4 separate regions of the Homo sapiens genome follow, and regions 1, 2 and 4 are each linked to region 3. Evidence: fine-mapped expression QTL. A gene starts in region 3. Each other region holds a variant in brackets. All regions are shown on one strand. Distances are between the middles of the regions.

Region 1 (5,144 bases), 39 kb before region 3:
ACACAGAGGGAGCCTGCTAAGTGTCTGCTGCACATTCCTGAGGATGCTGCAGGGTACCCATGGCTAGTCAGACGGGAGGGCGCCCGTGCCCAGAGTGGGTGTTTATTGAGCGCCGACTGTGTACCACGGCTAGAGGGGAGGGTGCCAGTGCCAAGTGGGCATGAAGCCCCGACTGCATACCTTAGCTACAGGCAGGGCACTAGTGCCCGGAGTGTGAGTGTTTACTAAGTGCTAACTGCATAGAAGGCACCGCCTGCCACAGTCACCCCTTGTAGCCCATCTCAACAAAAACAAGAGTGTTCGTATTAATAAAGCACTTACTGCATACCAAGCCCTGTCTCGGGGCCTCACGCCCGGTCCTGTGCATACATGCATAAGGACCTTCCAGCTTGTCTATACCCGCTCTTTCCACCCAACACCCCGCGGGTCCTTCCCTTCGGAGCCCGGAAGCGCTCCCACACTGGGCAGCCTTGGCCCCACCCTAGAGCTCCTTCATGATTGGCTGAGCTGGTTGCTAATCCCACTCCCCTTGGTTAGTGATTGGCCCAGGTGTGGTCATGTGGCCCAGCTCTGGCCACTGAGATGTGAGGGGGTGTCTCAGCAAAGGGAACCATGGGAAAGATTTCCCCCTGACGAGGAGGGAGTCTCCCGACCCGTTCTTTCCCTCCTGGACGTGCCAGGGTAAGGCGAGGGTGCTGGGGGCCTGCAGCTGGGCGAGAAAAGGGCCGAGTGCCGAGAGAATTGTGGCGGTGCCTATCCAGCCCCTGCTGTGAGTGAAGACTGAGTTAGTGACTCCTAGGATTCCCGCCTCTGGGCCTCTTGTTGCCTGAAGCGAGTACATGGCCTGAAGTCTAAGTCCGCTAAGCAGAGGGCCCTGTTTCTCACAGCCAGAAGTACCTGAGACACATGGGCGATCTCACTGTCCCCATGTCACAGTGGGAAGCAGGTGTGCTGAGGTTAAATAACCTTCCCACGGACACAGAGCCGGGAGTGGTGGAGCTGGGGTCAAAGCCAGGTCTCTGTGACTCCAGGACCGCTGAGTCCCGCAGCTCCATGTAGTTCCCTTTAAAGCCCCTCTCAGACTCCATGACCTGTCATCACTCCCTCAACCCTGAGCCTCTTGAAAGCAGGGAGTATTAGCACTTGGTCATCCTGCACTCCCAGAATCTAGTATGGTCTATGAATGAATGAATGAATGAATGAATGAATGAATGAAATCTGAGAAGTCTAACTTCTCTTACGTGGACAGAAAAGCTGAGGGCAACCTCCCTCCATTCCAAGATGTCTCAAGTCCCTGAACACATGGCTCTGCATGTGCTTCTTTGGGTGTGACTTCAGCAAGGAAATCAGTAAGAATTAAGAACCCTTGAAAAGTGCTCACCACGTACCCAGCACTGTTCTGTGCACATAGGAACCCACTTATCCCCGATGAAGTGGGCGCTGTTATTATTTCCTCCACATCTCAGGAGCCAAGTGAGGCAGAGATGTTAGGTCACTTGACCAAGGACACAGAGTAACTGCAGATCAAAGGTCAGTGCAGCCGTGGGACTTCATATACCCTGCTCCTAACCCATATGCTGTGCTTTCAAGGTGAGCCAATCTCAAAACCCCTTCTGTCTTCGCATCCACCAAGATAAGCCCTAGCCCTAAAACAGAAGACAGCAAGTCCACGAGAGCCCACGATCCACCCTCTGCCTTCACCTGGAAACTATTTGGAGGAGCAGAAAGAGAAACCATCTTGATTTTAATGCCATAAATGTTGCATTCTCTAAGTGTTTAGATAGCTTTGGGGACTCCCACTGTGCACAGGCTGTGGCCCACGCCCCACGGCTGGATCTGCCAGTGAGGCCTCTCCACCTTTTACCTGTTGCCAGGAGGCAGCAGAGTTTATTTAGTCTAGGAGTTGCCAACCACACGCCCGCGGGGGCCAGGTGGCTGCACAGGGGGGACCAGGCAGGTTGGGCATTGGGAAACCACAGCAAAGACTCAAGTGCCCATAAAGGAAGCTCCGCTGAGCTGTACAGAGCTGGCCAGGAGGGCCACACCAGCTGGTTGTTCATGAGAAGCCTGAAACCCAAACGTTTCAGTAAAAGTTCCTGCTTTTTTTAAACTCGATCTAGGTCAAACAGAAACATCTATGGTCCCGGTAAGGGTGCCACGCCCGGTCCACCAGACACAGACATCAAATAGCCTTACCTTGGTGAGATTCAAGGCTGTCTGCTCCGAGAGGGACTTACTGGGTAAGCTGAGGGATACATTTTGGAGGTAACTCAGTATCACTCCGGGACTTTGGAAGGTTTTTCTCTCTTCTGTCAGGTTGGTTATGATGGGATGGTAGGCATCTGTGGGCATCTGAAAGAAATTGGCAACATGAGTTTCTACTAAGAACTAAAACCAAAATATTATACAGAAGTTTAATGTGTCCTACTCTGGGTCGAATGCTTTTTTTAATTTTTTTTTTTTTTTTTGAGACTGAGTCTTGCTCTGTTGCCCAGGCTGGAGTGCAGTGGCGCAATCTCGGCTCACTGCAGCCTCTGCCTCCCGGGTTCAAGCGAGTCTCTTGCCTCAGCCTCCCAAGTAGCTGAGACTACAGGCGTGCACCACCATGCCTGGCTAATTTTTGTATTTTTAGTAGAGACAGGGTTTCACTGTGTTGGCCAGGCTGGTCTCGAGCTCCGGACCTCAAGTGATCCTTCTGCCTCGACCTCCCAAATTGCTGGGATTACAGGCATGAGCAACTGTGCCTGGCTGCTCTTTTTTTTATTTATAGAGATGGGGTTTCACTGTGTTTCCCAGGCTGGACTCGAGCAGTCCTCCTGTCTCAGCTTTCTGAGCAGCTGGGACTACAGGTGCAACCACCACACCCAGCTGGTCAAATGTTTTTATACCATGATAGTAATATAGC[T/A]CCTACCATGTATCTGACACTTTTGTGAATATTTTGCTTATATTAACATTTCATCCTCACAACAACCTTACAAAATAAGTCCCCATTTGATGGATGACACTAAGCGCAGAGAGGCTTACTCAAAAATAAGTGGTAGAACTTGGATTTGAACCCAAGCAGATGGGTCAGAGTCTGTGCACTCACTATTATATTAACGTTCTCAAGAAAGGACAGTTCTTTAACTACAAACACTAATTCCAGACAAGAATTTTTCTATATGAATTGAACTTTTCTCTAACATCAAACGAAAAGGGCATAGAGAGAAGCCAAGCAGGGCAGATTCCTCACTCCCCACTCACGGCGCCCACGTCCCATGAATGAGCCCGGTATTTCCTTTTGGGCACCTGAGGTTCCTGGTGGCAGGAGTTGAGAGTTTTCCCTTCAGTCACTCTTAGCACCAAGAATTAGTACTGCAGTTGGCTTCCCCTCCATTTGTTATTTCTTCCCAGACAATGTACTGCCGATAACAGAGAGCCCAGACACCTAATGGAATTTTCTCTCTCCCAGCAAACAGCCCAAGCAGAAGAACATCAGCAAGGGGGACCAAGGAAGATGTGTCTGCTCACCACGGGGCTTGCTGTGGATGTCATGAAGAGGCTTGGCAGCGTTGAAGACAATAAAGCATGCTTTCCTGGAAGAAACAATGCTGGATTAAGGACTAAAACATGGTCACTTTTTTCACCACGAGGAAGACCTGTCCTTGTTAAAAATGTACTGGCTTCAGACACATGGAAGAGAGTCTGAGAATGTTTTGAGTAGGAATGTTGCTGGAGATAAATTATGGGCTAAGAAATCAGCTGACTGAGTCGACCGTATAGATTTTCCCAGGTCACATTACTTTTCCATTTGTATTCTCAATCGCTTTTGAACACCCTTCATGCAAGTCAGCATATCAAAAGATGATTTTATACAAGGATTACCGATTTCAAATAAATAAAGAACCAAAAGAAATAGATTTCAATTGCATCCAGACTGGTTGGAGATAAAATGAGGAGTGCTACAACTCGCTGGGCCAGCACAGACAGGAGCCCTGGGAGCGCTCTCCTCTGAGATCGATGAAGTGAGAATAGGCCCCAGTAAAGCAGTGGAGAAAACTGTCTTCCTGAGCCCCCTCTAGCCCAAGGATTCCAGCTATTCTTTGCACTCAGCCCCCATGGGGTTAATGATGAATTATTACAAACAATGAAGACATTTAAGGCTGAAGACTAAGCCATGATTTGCTGTTCTCTGCCTGTTCACCCCCAACTATTTCTAATCCCACTATTTCCTGATGAGAACACACACTTAACCAGATATTCTACTTCATTTTTGGAAAATCTCTTGAAGTTGCTTTGGATGAGCTGAGGAAATGACATCATCACCCCTTGCTGGCTGCAGGAGTGACTGAGCCCTTGGGTTTGGGTGGGGTTGGGCTGCTGGTGAACGCAGAAGGTGTGGCGCTGCCGAGAGAACTGGACCCCAGAACCGCTCTGTTCTCCAAGTCAGAGTGACATTCACTCCTCAGGTGCCAATGAGTTACAGAGGAGTCATGTCAAACTCACATTTAACTCGTGTGTGTCCACAAAGCAGAGTGAGGGATAGTGAAAATCGGTCCAGCGATCCTGCCAACGCTTGCAAGCGATGACCATGGAGACTGGGGTGAAAATGAGAATCTGCCAGGTCCTCAGTCGGTCCCAGTTCCCACGTGTTGAGTGTGTTTCCAGTGCCCAAAGGTACATGCTTTCCGATTACACGTATCTGAACATAACCTTCTTCCTCCTCTACAGAAAGAGCTGCTGTCCATTCCAGTGGTAAGGGAGAGGGGACACCTGGCCAGGGTGACAGACGGTCAGCACTGTGCCTTTGTATCAGGAAAGGCCACCACACCTGGACGGACCGGTCAGCAAATGGTGCCAGCTCTGGCTCATGAGATTAGAGGAGGTGTCACCTCTGCCCAGGTCACTCAGAAAAAAGCCCCCTCTGGGCACCTACAGCCCCAGCACAGCTTCAAATGCAGACAGGTCTTCATGTAAAGAAAGACTTCTACCTACTTGTGTGGCCATGTCCCCACCGAGGCCCGGCCTGGCTGGGAGCAGACTGGATTTCAGTTCCAGTTGTCACTCTGCATGGCTGCCCTGAACTCGGCTGTGTCAGACTCACTGAGCAGTGGTACACGGGGCCCCACACAGGCCTTCCAGGGACTTCAAGAGCCATTCTCCTA
Region 2 (5,144 bases), 140 kb before region 3:
CTGGAGCCTCGTCCCTCATGGCTCACCCCCTCCATAGCGCCTGAGTCTCAGACTCAAACCCCCATTCCCCCACCATGGCTTCTGAGGCCCCGCATGCTCCAGCCCCAGCCCGTGCCTCTGACCTGCCTCCATCCACCCTCTCCCTTCATCATGGGAAAGCAAGACCCTCCCCGCTCGGGATTGGACTTGGGGAGCTGGTTATGAAGGTGAGGGAAGCCCTGAAAAAGCAGAGAAGGCAGTGAGGCAGCCCAGACAGCAGCCACTGCGGGAGAAGGAAGTGAGGCCCAGACAGCGGCCACCGCGGGAGGACAGTGGGAGAGGGGACAGCAGCAGAGCCAGGCCGGGCCACCAGCAGAAACTGGAACCAGACCAGCCTGCCCAGGTGAGGCTGGCGCGGGGGTGCAGGGGAGGGTCTGCATGCAGGCGCTGGAGCCACAGGGGGACGCCCATGCCAGCAGGAGCCCAGGCAGGAGGCTGGCCCCTTCGCCCACCCCAGCAGCACCATCTCTCCTTGGTTGGACTTGGCAGGAAGCCAAGCGTAGGGCAGAGAGCAGGGTGAGCAGAGGATGGGCTCCCGGGCACAAGAGCAGGAACTCCGGGCTAGGTCCACACTCCACCCCCACACCAGCCCTTGAACCAACCATCTGCTCCCCAACCTTTGACGCCCACCCTGTCCCGGCCAGGCTGGCTCCTGCCTGTCTCTGGTCTCTCCGCGGCTGGCATCCAGGCTCTCACGGGGCCTGTCTCCCCTCAGGGCAGCCCTCAGCCCCTGGCTGGGCTGCACTCCTGCCCTTGGCTCCTGGACAGCACGAGTGACCAGGCCCTGGCGGATCTGTGACTCCAGGCATCCCTGGTTTGGCGGCCATCCCTGGCCGTAGGCAGCCGTAGCATGTGCCAGCAGCATGCAGCCAGCCTCCCCCGGGCTGGGTCCAGTTGCTGGCACATTTCACGTCCACTGATGGAAATGAACCGACAGCCCGGGGACAGGTAGAAATGAGCTGCTTGGCCACTTGAGGGGTGCTGCAGGACGGGAGAGGACTGGCCACAGGCAGGAGATCTTCCCCGAGGACCCAGCTGGGCTGCTGTGTGTTTGAACAGATGCTGGGACTGGCCTGCCTCGGGTCACAGTGACCTTGTTGAAAGTGTCAGCTGGGGGGACCATCACCCTCTTGTTTTCCAGACCAGGAACCCTGGGGGCTCCTGCTGTCTCCCCTGGCCGCACAGCTTGTGCATCAGTCTGGGGCCATCTGGGAAAACAGAAACCACTCCAGCCTTTCAAAGAGTGGAACATTTGACTCAGGGAATTGCTAACCCTCGGGAGGGGAGAGAAAGGGGGACCTCATAGGGGTAGTGAGGTGGCCCAGGAATGAGCCTCGCCACAAATCCCCCCGTGGAAGCCAGATCCATAGACTGTCCAGCAGGGCTGCAGCCACAGCAGAGGCGTGGCCACTGCCCAAAAAGCCACGTGTAGGGGCGAGAGAAGAGCTGCTGGGCCTCCTCCCCTCCCATCACCTGCCCCAAGTGACAGACCTGCAACTCAGCACAGTGGTCGGCCGTGGGAGGCAGAGCCGGGCAGCAGGAGGCAGGTGGATCTCAGAGCAGAACCCAGGACTCAACATGACTGGGAACTCAGGGCTGAGTCCCCACTGTGCCCCAGACGATGGCTGCTTTAAACAGTTGTGGCGATGTAAACCTGGACTGGCAGTGCCCCACGGGAACCCATCCTCACAGATGGAGGCGGGATATAAAACTGGACCGGCAGTGCCCCACGGGAACCCATCCTCACAGATGGAGGCGGGATGTAAACCTGGACCAGCAGTGCCCCACGGGAACCCATCCTCACAGATGGAGGCGGGATGTGTGCATAGGATGCTGGTTATTTGCTGCGGCCAAAGACCACCATGACTTCAGTGTCCACCCGCGGGAGAGCTATGCAGTGGTTAACACGGGAGATGTGGCTCTGTGTACCCTGAGAAGGAGCAACCTCCAAGATACGTGCATACATTTTTTAAAGTGTGCTATCTTGCCAGGCATGGTGGTGCACACCTCTAGTCTCAGCTGCTTGGGAGGCTGAGGTAGGAGGATCTCTGGAGCCCAGGAGGTCAAGGCTGCAGTGAGCCAAGGTGGCGCCACTGACTCCAGCCTGGACCACAGCGTGCAACCTTGTCTCTAACACAAATAAATTGTAAATAAAAATAAAGGGTGCAGTCTTTATGCTTCACTACCCTTTGTTTAAAGGAAGGTTTGCATCCATTGAGGTACAGAAAATTTTAAAAACAAACAAAAAAAGAACAAAGAGCAAAGCGGGGCCCCAGGCTCAGCAACTGCGTCTGGAATGACAGAAAAGCAAGCGCGTGTCTAGGCCGCTGCTCTGGGCAGGGCCGGGAGGCAGGAATGGTGGCCGTGACCCTAAGCCGCTGCTCTGGGCAGGGCTGGGAGGCGGGAACGGTGGCCGTGAC[C/T]GTCAGTTTCCACACTCTGCCTTCTGTGTTCTTGCATTTTCCCACATGCGTGTATCATCTTTACAAACAATTCAACCTACAGAACCCCTCTGTCTCCTGACACCCCAGCTTCCTGTATGTCCCAAAAAGAACCCTCGAGCTCCTGTCCCACTCCTAACACGGGGGCTGGCGGCTTCTCAAAGACGGCCCACATCCCCACTCTAATTCCCAAGATTCAACACACTCATGACAAAAAATACGTGTTGACCAGAAACCTGGCCTGCTTCAGACGTCAAGCCCTGACCACAGCCTTGCAGCCCACAGCTGCCCCGCAAAGCGACCCGATCCCTCGGCCGGGCTATGCGTCCATCTGCCCTGGGAACGTCCAGTCTGGCCCCTGACCATGTTCCCAGTCCTGGTCACCCGGCCCACCCTCAGCCCCACAGAGTAAGACCCCAATTCTGAGGGTAGCCCCGAAAGAAGATCCCCCAAGACAGGACCACCCCAGAGGCTGCTGCAGCTCCCTCTGCAGAGCGGCTCCAGCCCAGCACACTCCAGAGCAGACACTTCTTCAGGAGAATTAGGGAATAAATGAAGCAACATATGCTTCTCCTCTAAAAGGAGCAGCCTGGGTCTGGTTGGAGGAGGCAACGGCAATTGAATTTGTCAAGAGGGGCAGGGGTGGAACCCTCAGAACCTTGAAGCTACGTCTCCCTGCCCCCAGGACTGCAAGGTGCCCAGGCAGGGCTGGGGCTGAGCTGACAGCAAAGCTGAGTCCCGGCAGCAACTGGCTGCTGCTCCACCTCGAAGTGCAGGTTTTTACCTCTTAGGCCCATTTCCCAATGTCCCAGGTGGCCAGCAGCCTGAGAGTCGGGGGGACTGAAGGGAGAGATGGGGGTGGCAGGTGTCAGCCCTGTTCCCAGGGCTCACTCAGCTCTCCACTCAGAGAGGCACAGGCCACAGGGTACAGGGGAGGGCCCTGGGGGCTGAGAGGGGGCGTCTCGAGGGAGACTGGAGGGGCATGGGAAGGGGTGGGTAGGGCAGGAGACGGGAGGGGGTGGAAGGACGCATGCCCCTGCGCCTCCCCCGGGTGAGCTCCCAGCTCCCATCCCCAGCCCAGCTCTCAGCAGCCCAGGACAGGGCTCAGGAAAACTCATCTGTAAGGCGGGGCGGGAACAGCGTGCACCCGTGCACCTGGAGGGCTTGCTGGTGGAATGGTAAGGAGCCCATGCAGAAGGACCCAGCAGGCTTTGCCCACCACCCTCTCCTTCTGGAAGAACTGCACAGGCTGGGAAATCAGAAGGGATGGTGACAATTTTCTGGGTCTCTAAGAGGATGGTACTGAGGATGCATGCCCTCCCCACTCAGCCAGAAGACACTGGTGAACCACAGTATTGCTTGGGGAGTCGGGGGGGCGCTGCTGAACAAACCAACTTCCTTGTTACTCCTGGGCAAGGCAGGACCCTCTTCTGCCTCCAGGATTAGAGGGGTCCAGGGATGGGTGGAGGGGCCTCTCCTTGGAGCCCCTCCAGCCTCCACAGTTACCCCCACCCCCATCAACAGGGCAATAGACCGTCCTGCCCCGGTGCCCACAGCCACAGGACTGAACCTTCCTTATGAAGAGTGAATGGAAGGAGACTTGTGGCCATGAACGGGTCAATGCTGGGATGGCTGCAGTCCCAGGTGCAGTAGCCAGGCCTGCTCCACCCCACCCCACTCCCACTCCACTCTCAGGGGTCCTCAGGGCCAGGACATCCCTAGGGACCTCATACTCATGGCTCACTGTGACTTCACTCTGTCAGGCAGTGTTTGGGGCTGGGTGCTGAGGCTGGGTACTGAGGCTGTGTACTGAGACTGGGTGCTCAGGGCTGGGTACCGAGGCTGGGTGCTCAGGGCTGGGTGCTGAGACTGGGTGCTCAGGGCTGGGTGCCGAGGCTGGGTGCTGAGGCTGGGGACTGAGGCTGGGTGCTGACGCTGGGTGCTGAGGCTGGGTGCTCAGGGCTGGGTGCTGAGGCTGGGTGCTCAGGGCTGGGTGCTGAGGCTGGGTGCTGCTGAGGCTGGGTGCTTGGGCCTGAGCTGTGCTTACTTCTGCCTCCTCATCACCACCACAGCTCCACAAGGAAAGGGTCCCACCCATGTCACAGCGGGGAAACTGAGGCTCAGAGCAGGCACCTGCCCAAGGCCACCTGGCACATCACTGGGAGGGACCTGTGTGTCCAGCTGGCTGGGAGGCAGAGGGGCCACTACTAACCCCAGCTGCATGCAGGAGGTGTTATTGGGAGGTGGTCTGGCTAACATTCACACAGAGACCCCGTGGAGGGAGCCTGTTTCTGACTTGAGCTGTACATGCTGCGGCTGCCGGCACTGCAGTTGGCACAGTCCCGCCTGTGACACACCCTCGGGACCGCAAATACAGCTCAGAGTGGTTCTCACAGCTCCCAGCAACACCGTGTAATTCAGGCCCCTGCCACTGCCCGCCCTGTGCCCTTCCCTGGAGCCAGGGCCCATCTGAGAGGCTCAAGGCTGCACCTGGCTGGGTAACCGCGGGGCACGGGGCCTAGAACCATGGGTCTGGGCGGAGGCTGCACTGCCGTTCCTGCCTCAGGAAGGCGTGGTGTGCCCCCACGGTGCCCTTCCTTTCCCACCCATAGCTAGATTTAGAAATGCCCAGAAAAGCCTGCAGTTGGTTTCAGGACACGGACTCCT
Region 3 (5,144 bases):
TGAGGCACAAGAATCGCTTGAACCCGGGAGGCAGAGGTAGCAGAGAGCCGAGACTGAGATCTCACCACTCAACTCCAGCCTGGGTGACAGAGTGAGACTTTGTCTCAAAAAATAAAAACAAAAATAATTTTTTTAAAAAGGCTGATTTCCCATCAGAGACAGGCAGGGCCATACAATAGCGCTCGGGGGGGTGCCCAGCCAAGCTCTGGTGGGGCGGGGGCAGAGGCTGTGCTCACAACAGGCTTCCCAGCAGGGGTTCAGGCACTAGCAGGGTCTCCTCCCCACCTCCTGCAACTTCCAGCAGGGAGCAACAGCCCAGTGACTGCCTGCTGCTCCCAGAAAGCCTCGTCTTCCCATCCCTGCCCCTGGCTGACCAGAACGTGTGCCCACACTCTTAACAGCGAAGGGTGTGTGCCTCCCTGTCTTCCCGAGAGAAGCCCCGTCCTGATGCTTCCTGGTTGGGTGTCACAATGGCCAATGGAATGTGGCTCTGGGGCTGGAGCAAGGGTGGCCCTCTATCCCGAGTCCCACTCATCGGCTGCTCCAGGCTAAGCTGGTCAGCACTCTGAGGCTGGAGGTCCCGAGACCCTGCTATGGGCCAGAGCTCCAACTCCCCACCAGTGAATCTGCCCTGAAGACATGAGATGGGTGTGGTGGCTCACATCTGTAATCCCAGCACTCTGGGAGGCCAAGGCGGGCGGATCACCTGAAATCAGGAGTTCGAGACCAGCCTGGCCAACATAGTGAAACCCTGTCTCTACTAAAAATACAAAAAAAAAAAAAGCTGGGTGTAGTGGTGCACACCTGTGATCCCAGCTACTCAGGTGGCTGAGGCAGGAGAATTGCTTGAACCCGGGAGGCAGAGGTTGCGGCCACTGCACTCCAGCCTGGGCAACAGAGCAAGACTCCATCTCAAAAAGAAAAAAAGGAAGAAAGGAAGAAAGAGAGAAAGAGAGAAAGAAAGAGGCAGAAGGCATTCAAATGAAGATCATATTTCCTTAATCACAATGTTTCATATGACCCAGCTCAAGGGGCCCAGAACCACTTCTCCATCCACCGCTCAGCCGGTGAGGGGTAGCAGAGCTGCCCAGGGTCACAGTGTGTGGTGAGGCAGTGAGGTCGGGGACCAGGAGCCCAACAAGGGCCATTCGCTGATGCCTCAGAGATGAACAAGTGGGCTGTTCCTGAGATACCTGCACTAGGCAGGGGGAGAGCGGTGCTCAGAGTGAGAAGGAAACACTCTTACCTGGATGGTCCTGCGATCTGGAGTAGACGCCACGCACCTGCGCACAAAAGACCACAGTGTGAGACACACTCAGGGAAAGCCTCCGGAGAAACCAAGCCTGTCGCCATCCTGGCCACTTGGGGACATTACCTGAAAGTTGTAATAAAATAGCAGCAGCCAGGAGTACCAGCAGCACAGCCGCAGCAGCTTTTCCATGGCTCTCTCGGAGGTCAAAGCTCGGAGCCAAGTGAAATTCCTGAGGGTCTGTGAGAACGGGACCTCTTAACCTTCACTTCCTTGGAAAAGGGACATTTTCACAGGTTCCAGGGGAGAAAATTTCTGTCTCCTTAAAGTTTGTGAAACACAGCTGTCTTGGAGACCTAATGGGTGTTTCTTCCTCGTCTCAAAACTTGAGATTCTTCAGTGATCAATAAACACGTTGCGATGACCAGAGCAGCTGTGGAATGCAGGGAGGAGAAACCCAAACCCGACTCGCAGTCCTGGGAAAGCAATCCCAGGTCACCACTGTGACCGCGACCTGCGCCCGGGGACGGGAGGCTGTTTGTCCTGCGGTATTTTCTTTTTATTTCAAGAGCCTCCGTTTGTCTCAGTCAGGTTTGGAGCTTCCCTTTTCTCTGAAGAAGGTTTTGTGCGTGGTTTTCCCCTGGAGCGCCCGCCTGCTCCTCGGGCTTGTCCTGCGGCCGCTCTCGAGCTCCTTCTGGTCTGGCTCAAGTTCACACCTCCGTCCTGCTCTCTGGGTGGAGGGGGAGTGAGTGATGTAAGTCTCTCTCCTCAAACTTTGTTCTGTTCTCCTTTTCTATTTATATCCCCACTGCTGTGTCCTTCCTGGGTCCTAACTCCAGCCTCTTAACAACAGCTGAAATATTTCCAGGATCTCAGGCTCAGAATCAAACCAAACAGACATGGTGTGTGGTGTGTGTGCGTGTGCGTGTGTGTGTTACTGATGCCTTCTGGTCAGCACCTTCAAAGTCGGCATAAATATTAATAAATACAAAATGCAAAACAAACCATAAACTCTGTTTAGATCTGAGTCTTGTTTGCCCCCAAAAGAGAATGAAGTTGACAGAGGGATGGAAAAGAGAAAGCAGCACACCCACTGTGCCCTCCATATTAAGCGCTGACCACATTTTTCTCTCTAATCCTTTCGGACGTCAGTGAAAGCTACGGAATTAATTACAAGGTACGCTGCGCAATTACACCATCCCACATATACCCCCACCCCAGCACCAGGAGGATGTTCTCAATGGGATAGAAAAGAGTCAGCCCCTTCGCCAGACATGCCTCAGTTTACCCAAGACCAAAGTTTATCCGATCTACTCCAAATACACGTGGACACACAGAGACACACACCCTAGAATTGCAGTCACAGCTATATTTGCTATGTGATTTAAGTAATATTTACCGCTTCATACTTTCTCCAACATTCACCAGCTGTGCTCCTAGGCAAATTACTTGATCTCTCTTAGTTTTCGAATTCCTCATCCACAAAATGGGGGTTAATAGTTCCTCCTCCTCAGGGCTGTAACAATAAATTAGAGGACAGATCCAAGGCTCTTCAGGCAGTACTTGGAAAATATGTGGCACTCAGTAAATGCTGCTATTTTCTATTAAGAAAAATTATCACTCAGTAAATGTTAGCTATGATTATTATTAGCAAGTATAACATAACACCCAGTAAATGTTAGCTGATACAGTTATCTCAATTGTCCTGACTTTAAATGGGAATTAAGAATCCTGAATCCAACATACTTCCTAAAGAGGATAAGAAAATGACTTCCAATCTCTGTGGGACAGAAAAAAAGAAAGTGCTGTCAAAACGTTAGGTGATTATTTTTAACTTGTGCCTGCAGCCTACAACCGCTCAGATCCTCTGATAGCCTGAGCCTCTCTGTGGAGCTGGAGAAGGGTTCCAGAGAGTTCCATCTCCTAGCAATGGAGAAACTGTGAACTCCAAAGGCCGGGGGCTGTCTGTAATAACGACCTTTATCCTGTTGCTCAGGCTGGTCGGCTTCAGGGAAAACTAATTTACAACCTTTATCTCTGCCATTTCATCAGCTCTCCAGTCCCCCACTGCCTCTCGCTGGAAGAGGTGAAGGGAGGGACAGGCAGCTGCAGGTTTTTCTCAGCTCCAGTTTTAACCTGGAAGAATTCAACAGATTGCTGAATATGCGGACCTTTCCCATCTCCATGACCGAACAAAGCCAGCATGGTTTCTTTTCATCATAAAATTGTCATCAGATAATGGGAGACACCCCGATTCAATGACTGTAATAAAAACTAGATAGCAAAGCAATTCAGCAGAGCTTGCCCTGCAGGCATCTGCACTCATCCTCAGACTCACTCTGACTCTCCATCCCGGACTACAGTCTCGTGCCTCATGCTATTTGCCTGCGTCCTGTCTCAGGCCTTGTTCAGAGGCCCAGATGAAGAGCCCGCCTCCATGTAAAGCAGCGTGTCCTGAAGCCTGGAGATTTGAGACAGGGCCTTGAGTGGTCCATGGGCCTGGAACCAAGCAACTCTGATGTCTCTGAGCATCTCATTCCATCACCCAAACGTCGGGGTGTTCGGCACCCAAACATCACCTTGACAGCAGGTCTCCCTCCCCCTAAAGCCCTCCCCTGCTGTATTTTCTCGATCCCACTAACCACGATCCAATGTACTTCATATCTTAGACGTTTATTTCATTTATTGTCAGTCTCTCCCCACCGAGGCGTAGGCCCCATGAGAGCAGAGACCTTCTTTCTGCCTGTTCGCTCTGCACCCCAGCCCCGAGAACAGGGCTTGGTACTTGGTGAGCACTCAGCGTTTGTCACCAAACCCAGCCTGGCTCTGCCCTCCCGCAGCAAAGCCAAACATGGACGTCGGGATTGCAGTGAGAGGAAGTGAGGCATTTAGAGCAGGGCACCAGGCGAGCAGAACCTGGCAGCTCACACTTCAGACCTGAACTCCCCGATGGCTGATGGGGGAGGGTTTTTCAAGGTGGAGAGGCAGAGGTTACAGGCTAAGTCCCACATGAATAATACCTGGAGGCTGCACATTGGTTTGACCTAAAAAGCTAGGACATCTTGAACTGGGGGCCCACAGGTCATATAGGTAGTAGATTCAGAGGTTTTCTGATTTGTGATTGGTTAAGAAGGCAAGGCTTTGTCAAAAAATTTGAGATCAGCAAAAAAGAATGTTAGCTCTGGCCTGTGGGCATGACCTCCTCCAGGCCCCTCAGGAAGAAATTTAGAACAAAGAACAGTGGTGGGCCCGGAGGGGTGGATCCCAACACTTTGGGAGGCTGAGGCAGGTGGATCACCTGAGGTCAGGGGTTCGAGACCAGCCTGGCCAACATGGCGAAACCCCGTCTCTACTAAAAATACAAAAATTAGCCGGGTGTGGTGGTGCATACCTGTACTCAGGAGGATACTTGGGAGGCTGAGGCAAGAGAATCGCTTGAACCCAGGAGGCGGAGGTTGCAGTGAGCTGAGATTGAGCCACTGCACTCCAGCCTGGGCAACAGAGTGAGACTCTGTCTCAAAAAACAAAGAACAAAGAACGGTGGTGGAGTTCAGCTCTCCGCTCCCCCATATCAGAGGTCTGTAAGTCAACAGATCCATTTGGTGGGGGTCCAGGTTCTGAAAAACAACTCCGGGTCGTTTGTTACGATGTTGTCTTTAGTTTCTACAGGGAAGCAATGAATTCCTGACTCTAACTCTCTTGACTATTGTTTCTCGCCACTATTAACTTCTTGCTTCCCAAGTTGCTCATGTATTTCTCAGGGCTAGCTAGGTGGCTGGAATTCCCCTTCAAGGAACCCAAGATTTTATTGTATTTATTTATTTATTTTGAGATGGAGTCTCATTCTGTTGCCCAGGCTAGAGGGCAGTGGCACGATCTCAGCCCACCACAACCT
Region 4 (5,144 bases), 170 kb before region 3:
CTGGGACTTGCGATGGGAGTGCTGGGAAAAAGCCTCCGTTTCCATCCGGGGAGGCAGAGAAGATGAGGGACGAGCCTCATGCCAGTGCAGGTGCAGGAGCCCTGGGCCCAGCCTCCCCACAGATGGTCCTGACTCAGGAACCTGTAAATCCCCATCCGTGTTTAAACACTGAGTTGGGGCCAGGCACAGTGGCTCACGCCTGTAATCCCAGCACTTTGGGAGACAGAGGAGGGCAGATCACCTGAGGTCAGGAGTTCGAGACCAGCCTGGCCAACACGGTGAAACCCCGTCTCTACTAAAAATACAAAATTAGCTGGGCGTGGTGGCGCATGGCTGTAATCCCAGCTACTTGGGAGAGTGAGGCAGGAGAATCGCCTGAACCCAGGAGGCAGAGGTTGCAGTGAGATCGCACCACTGCACTCCAGCCTGGGAGACAAAGTGAGACTCCGTCTCAAAAAAACAATAACAAAAACAACAACAAAAAACTCTGAGTTGGGTTTTCTGTCACTTGCAAACCACTGTAACTGTAACTGTTATGTGTGGTTCCCAGGAGGCTTCTGCTGAGATTCCCCTCTGCAGCCTTGGAGTCCTGGTGACTCCTGAGCAAGGAGCTAGCCGGTGGGTGAGAAGGCACCGGAGGATGGGGAAGGACGAGCCCGCGCCTGTGCTGTTCTCAGGGCTGTGTGCCTGCACCTGCCGCCTCGACTGGAAGAGCCCTGGGGCCTCGAGTGGACCCGCCTGGAAAGCACCGCCTTCCTGAGCATTCCGGGAAATAAGACCCTCAGTCACTGGCCCAGAGGAGCCCTAGCGAGGAGTGACCGAGGAACGACGCTGCATCCTTCGGAAGCTCCTCAGGGAGCCCCCCGCCATCTCCAGAGCCCCACACCCTCTCCTCCTGCCCCTCCCCAGCCCCGCTCTGCGCCCACAAGGGTAGGAAACGTACCACGATGACAAACAGGGCAGGGGCTACAAAGGCCCAGATGGCGCCACTCGCCAACGACAGCCAGCAACTGCGGAGGGAAGCAGAGCCGTTACTTCAACAACCTCGTTCCACCTGCCAGCGTACCTTCATCCAAAAGTAGTTGCTAAGGTGATGTCTTTCTCAGCTACAGGGTCCACCTGGGGCAGTCATACAACATTCCTAATCCCTGCAAATGTATTTTTATCCATGATGATCCCACGTCTCATTCTTGGAAAGGATTTTCCAGGTTTGAAGACCAGGACAGCAACCTCTGGAGAGTTTAGCCAAAATCCAGAATAGATTTCAATTTCATTAGGAAATAGACCTTTGCTGGGGACTGGCTTTCCTGCAGAGCACTTCAAGTATGACCCAATAGGGGCCTTCTGTGAGGGATTCCCATCCTGATGAGTCGTCAGCGATGCAGCACCTGACCATTCCCATATGCCCAAAGCTCGAGGTCAGTTCCCCTCTCTCCGTGCCCTCCAACTGAGAGGAAAGGTTCCAGAGGGTCCTAGTGATTGCTCTGATGTCCTGAGAGGAGGGTCCAGTTTGAGGATCTGGCCTCTGAGAAGTGACCCCAAGAACTCGGGCAAAAAAAAGCCAGCTCCTCCACAATTTTATCTCCAGAGCCTACGGCACTGTCAAGAGCCGAAGAGTCCCTAGGACCTCTCATCTTGACTCCTGGACACTGTTTCCCAAGGACCTGGAGTGCCTTTAATTGGATCTGGGCAGGTGCGTGGCGCAGTCCTCACTGGCACCCAATGTGGTGTCTCCCCGGGGCTGGCTTATTTCATCCCTCCGTGACTGCTCACTGAGCAGCAGGTCTGCCCCACAGCACAACAAACTCCATCATCTCATTTAATCCTATGCTGCCCCTGAGGTGGGCGCTATGATCACTCCAATCCTGCAGATGAGGAATCTGAGCCCTAAATAGCTCAGGTGACTTCAGAGATCACTGTCAGCACACTGCCTCCCTGCCCCCATTCCTCCCCAAAGCCTCCCGGACCAGGAGATGGCAAATGCCCCAAAACAAGAGACAGCACCTGCAAGAGGCTCATTCATGGCTGCACACCCAGAGCACGGAGAGGAGAAACCTCTCATCTGAGGATGCACTGTTTAAAAGGAAAATGCACTGCAAGTCTGAATGGTACCTCTGCAAAGGTGCGATTCAAACCAGGCTCTCCGGAGAGTAGGATGCTTCTGCAAAGAGAGAGATTGTGCTTTCCAGCACTTCATGCAGAATTTTAAGTCGACGAGGGGCTTCTGGTAGATACTCTATCCTGTTCAGAAACCTGGTGAGCTTCCTGAACCTGGCTGGTGCTGCCTGGCTTTCGGGCATGAGTGTGGGAAAAGGCTTGTATTACGGTCAGACCCCGGGACTCAGGACTGTGGGTCCAGCATCCCCAAGCTCCAGATGGGATAAAAGGGAACAAATGCCATTGAGCTGTGTTTGAGGAGAACATTCTTCTTCTAATTAGTCCCTCAACTTCTAACAGCATCCAGAATGAAAGGAAGGCCAGAACAGTGGTCTGCGTAACCATGCTTGTTTCACTGTGCGCTCAGACACTGCCTTCTACAAATGCTTCGCCTTCAGGGAACCTGCACCAACGTGGAAAAGGCTGGATTTCTCCCAGTTTCACTATTCGTCTGTACTATTATCTCATTCTGAAGCTGTGAAAATGCTCAACTTCCTTTCTGTTTGTAAGCACCGTCAATATTTATTTTCCATGTTTTCACTCAGTGGTTTCTCAGCGTGGCTAGGACAGGTAGCAGCTTCCAAGAAACATTTGAGTGAAAGCTCTTTTACTTGTAAGGAAAGAAAATCATCTTTCTGGAACGTGAACAGCTGATCTGGTCCCTCAGCACCATCCCATCCTCTTCCTGACACAACTGTGGACCCATGAGCTGCATTTCAAGTGGCAACAGGAGATACTGGACATCATAAGGTCCATCCCCTACTACCCAAGCAATGGGACCCTCAAGACCACCTGCCTGGTGCACAGCAGGCCCCACTTACTCCAACATGCATGTGTCTGCTCCCTGTGAGTTACTGGGCACACGGTCTGCACAGTGCGCTTGCTGGCCACCCCAAGAAAGGGTGAAAGGGCCACAATTCAGCCTCCGTGGATGACCAGAACTGTGTCT[G/C]AGAAGACCACGTGGGTGAAACATTTCCAAGCAGAAACTCCTAGCAGGCCCCCTGCTATTCCTGGAGGCGCTCTGTGGTCTTTGTTGCTAGTTCCGAGGCCCCAAAATGTCCAGAGCACAGCTGGGTTGTTTCTCCCTCTCCCTGGACCACGACTTTCTCACCGGCTGGGCCTGTGGGAGCCAGCTTTGCACAGCACCCCTGCACCCAGAAGAGCACAGGAAGGCAAGAGCCACGGGGCTCTCGCCACAAGCTGTTCCATGGAACGCCTGCCAAAAGCAAGGCAAAGCCCTGCACTTACTTGTTGCTTGTTCCGTAACTGTCCATGGCAAATGACAGTGAAATGATGCAGATCAGAAGAGGAAAACCTGCAGAAGATTGGAGAATATCATGTTCACTTGCTCCAGTTTTCTTCCCTCCCTCCCGCCTCCCCCATCCCTCCCTTCCTTTCTTCATTCCTTGTACACCTCATACATGTATACAGAGGGGGAACTATGTGCTAATTGTTGGGACACAGAACAGCCCCTATCCTCAAAGAACTTTTAGTCTAAACAAAGGAATAACACACACACACTCATACTCACATGTTCACACTTCTGTACTAGACAACAAAGTGTATGAGTCTTCATCAAAACAAACCATGTGGGTGAGATGTGGCATTGTGACTGGCAGGAAGGTAAGCTCAGCTTGGTCTATCTAGACCTGTGGTTCTCAACCAGGGCCAAGGTGGCCCCACAAGAGACAACTGGCAATGGCTTAAGTCATCTAGGGTTGTCATAACGGGATGGAATCAGGCAGGCAGAGGCCAGGGCTTCTGTTAAACACCCTACAATGCACAAGACTGCCCCACAAGAGTCACCCAGCCCAAGTATCCATAGTGTTGGTTGAGAAGCCCTGTTCTAGAGCGGCGGTGGAAAGGTGTGAGATCAGCTGGGACTGAGGGGACATCGGACATGGCTGACTTTGCCATGCACACAGTCCACATTCTTACAGTATTTGAGCCCATAATTTCCTTAGGGAACCTATCACACTCCATCTTTCCATGAGGTCCAGGTGGGCTGGTTCCTTCCTGGCTCTGAGGCATGTGACCCAGGACTGGCTGACTGGAACATCAAATCCCCCAGCCACAGCTATTGGTTCAAAGATGGGCATGTGACCCTGGCTGGCCCAATGAGACTCAATCAAGGGCTTTCTTCGAAACTGCTGAGAAGAAACTCTCTTTTCTACGGAGCCCCTAAGAGGATAAGGATGTCAGTGAGCTTGGGGTCCAGGCAGCCATTTTGGCACCACAAGAGATCAGATCTGAGAGACGGAAAAAGAAAACAAAATCTTGATTATATTACTTAAGCTCATGGATCAAGCCATATCTGAAGTCCAGCATCTTAGAACTTTTTTGTTATATGAGCCATCACATTCCCTTTTTGCCTTAGCCAGTTCAAGTTGGATTTCTATTACTTGAAACTGAGTGTGACAAATTAAATGTGTTTAATATTTGACAAAGCCAAGTGAGACTTTGGGGGTGGTGATAGAAGGGAGGCCCACGAATGAGGTAGAAAGCATCTGGATCACAGCAGTCCCCAGAGCTTCATCATTCTGCAACGAAAACACTCTATGGCCACACTACTTGTAGGAATTGACCTAACCCAAATCTGAACTGGCCTCTACTTTCACTTTTAAAGTGCAGAGGTTTTGTATGCTAATGTGTCTTATGACTCTCCAAAAGGAAGATCGCATTGCAACACTCCTCAAGCTCAGCCATCCACGGAATTTGTCTGGAAACATGGCTCTGCTTCCACACGCACGTGTGAGCTTTGAAACAGATCCTGCACGAATGGGAATCTGTTTCTGAAAAGAACACACTTCTCGTTATTCAGAAAGTGGGGCATCATCCACGGGGCCTGCTCTAGTGCAGCCACCCTGAGCACAGCAGCCTCTGTCCTCTGCTCCCTCTGCAGGGAAGGATGGGAGAGAGATGAGAGACTGCAAAGGACCAGCTCCTTACTCCACACCTGAACCTTTTCCCCAGGAGGATGCTCAAGA

Which allele goes with the higher level. Alleles are on the strand shown, and positions count from the first base shown. SD is a standard deviation of normalised expression in the study named. Not every link is listed here.
As copies of A replace T in region 1, the expression in prefrontal cortex of the gene that starts at base 2,000 in region 3 goes down (moderate effect, 0.44 SD a copy in BrainSeq).
As copies of C replace T in region 2, the expression in lymphoblastoid cells of the gene that starts at base 2,000 in region 3 goes up (moderate effect, 0.69 SD a copy in GENCORD).

Evidence for each region. PIP is the estimated chance that this variant, and not a neighbour inherited with it, causes the effect.
Region 1: its variant is the best candidate, but not a certain one, in a credible set for the expression of ADGRD1 in prefrontal cortex (BrainSeq, PIP 0.59).
Region 2: its variant is the best candidate, but not a certain one, in a credible set for the expression of ADGRD1 in lymphoblastoid cells (GENCORD, PIP 0.71).
Region 4: its variant is the best candidate, but not a certain one, in a credible set for the expression of ADGRD1 in testis (GTEx, PIP 0.51).

What each region holds. Positions count from the first base shown.
Region 1 is chr12:130,989,445-130,994,588 of GRCh38, reverse strand. ADGRD1 (adhesion G protein-coupled receptor D1) reads right to left here. Exons shown (of 25, transcript NM_198827.5): 7 at 3,511-3,575; 8 at 2,197-2,352. ADGRD1-AS1 (ADGRD1 antisense RNA 1) reads left to right here and starts at 613. Exons shown (of 2, transcript NR_131951.1): 1 at 613-681; 2 at 3,452-3,963. RefSeq lists an enhancer at 4,632-4,801. The variant T/A (reference allele first, on the strand shown) is at 2,906.
Region 2 is chr12:131,093,292-131,098,435 of GRCh38, reverse strand. All of the region lies in intron 15 of ADGRD1 (adhesion G protein-coupled receptor D1), which reads right to left. Among named protein-coding and RNA genes, the nearest start is that of LINC01257, 69 kb to the left of the region's middle. The variant C/T (reference allele first, on the strand shown) is at 2,460.
Region 3 is chr12:130,950,763-130,955,906 of GRCh38, reverse strand. ADGRD1 (adhesion G protein-coupled receptor D1) reads right to left here and starts at 2,000. Exons shown (of 25, transcript NM_198827.5): 1 at 1,376-2,000; 2 at 1,247-1,283. The coding sequence starts at 1,441.
Region 4 is chr12:131,116,713-131,121,856 of GRCh38, reverse strand. It overlaps ADGRD1 (adhesion G protein-coupled receptor D1), which reads right to left. Exons shown (of 25, transcript NM_198827.5): 19 at 3,406-3,472; 20 at 944-1,010. Among named protein-coding and RNA genes, the nearest start is that of LINC01257, 46 kb to the left of the region's middle. The variant G/C (reference allele first, on the strand shown) is at 3,107.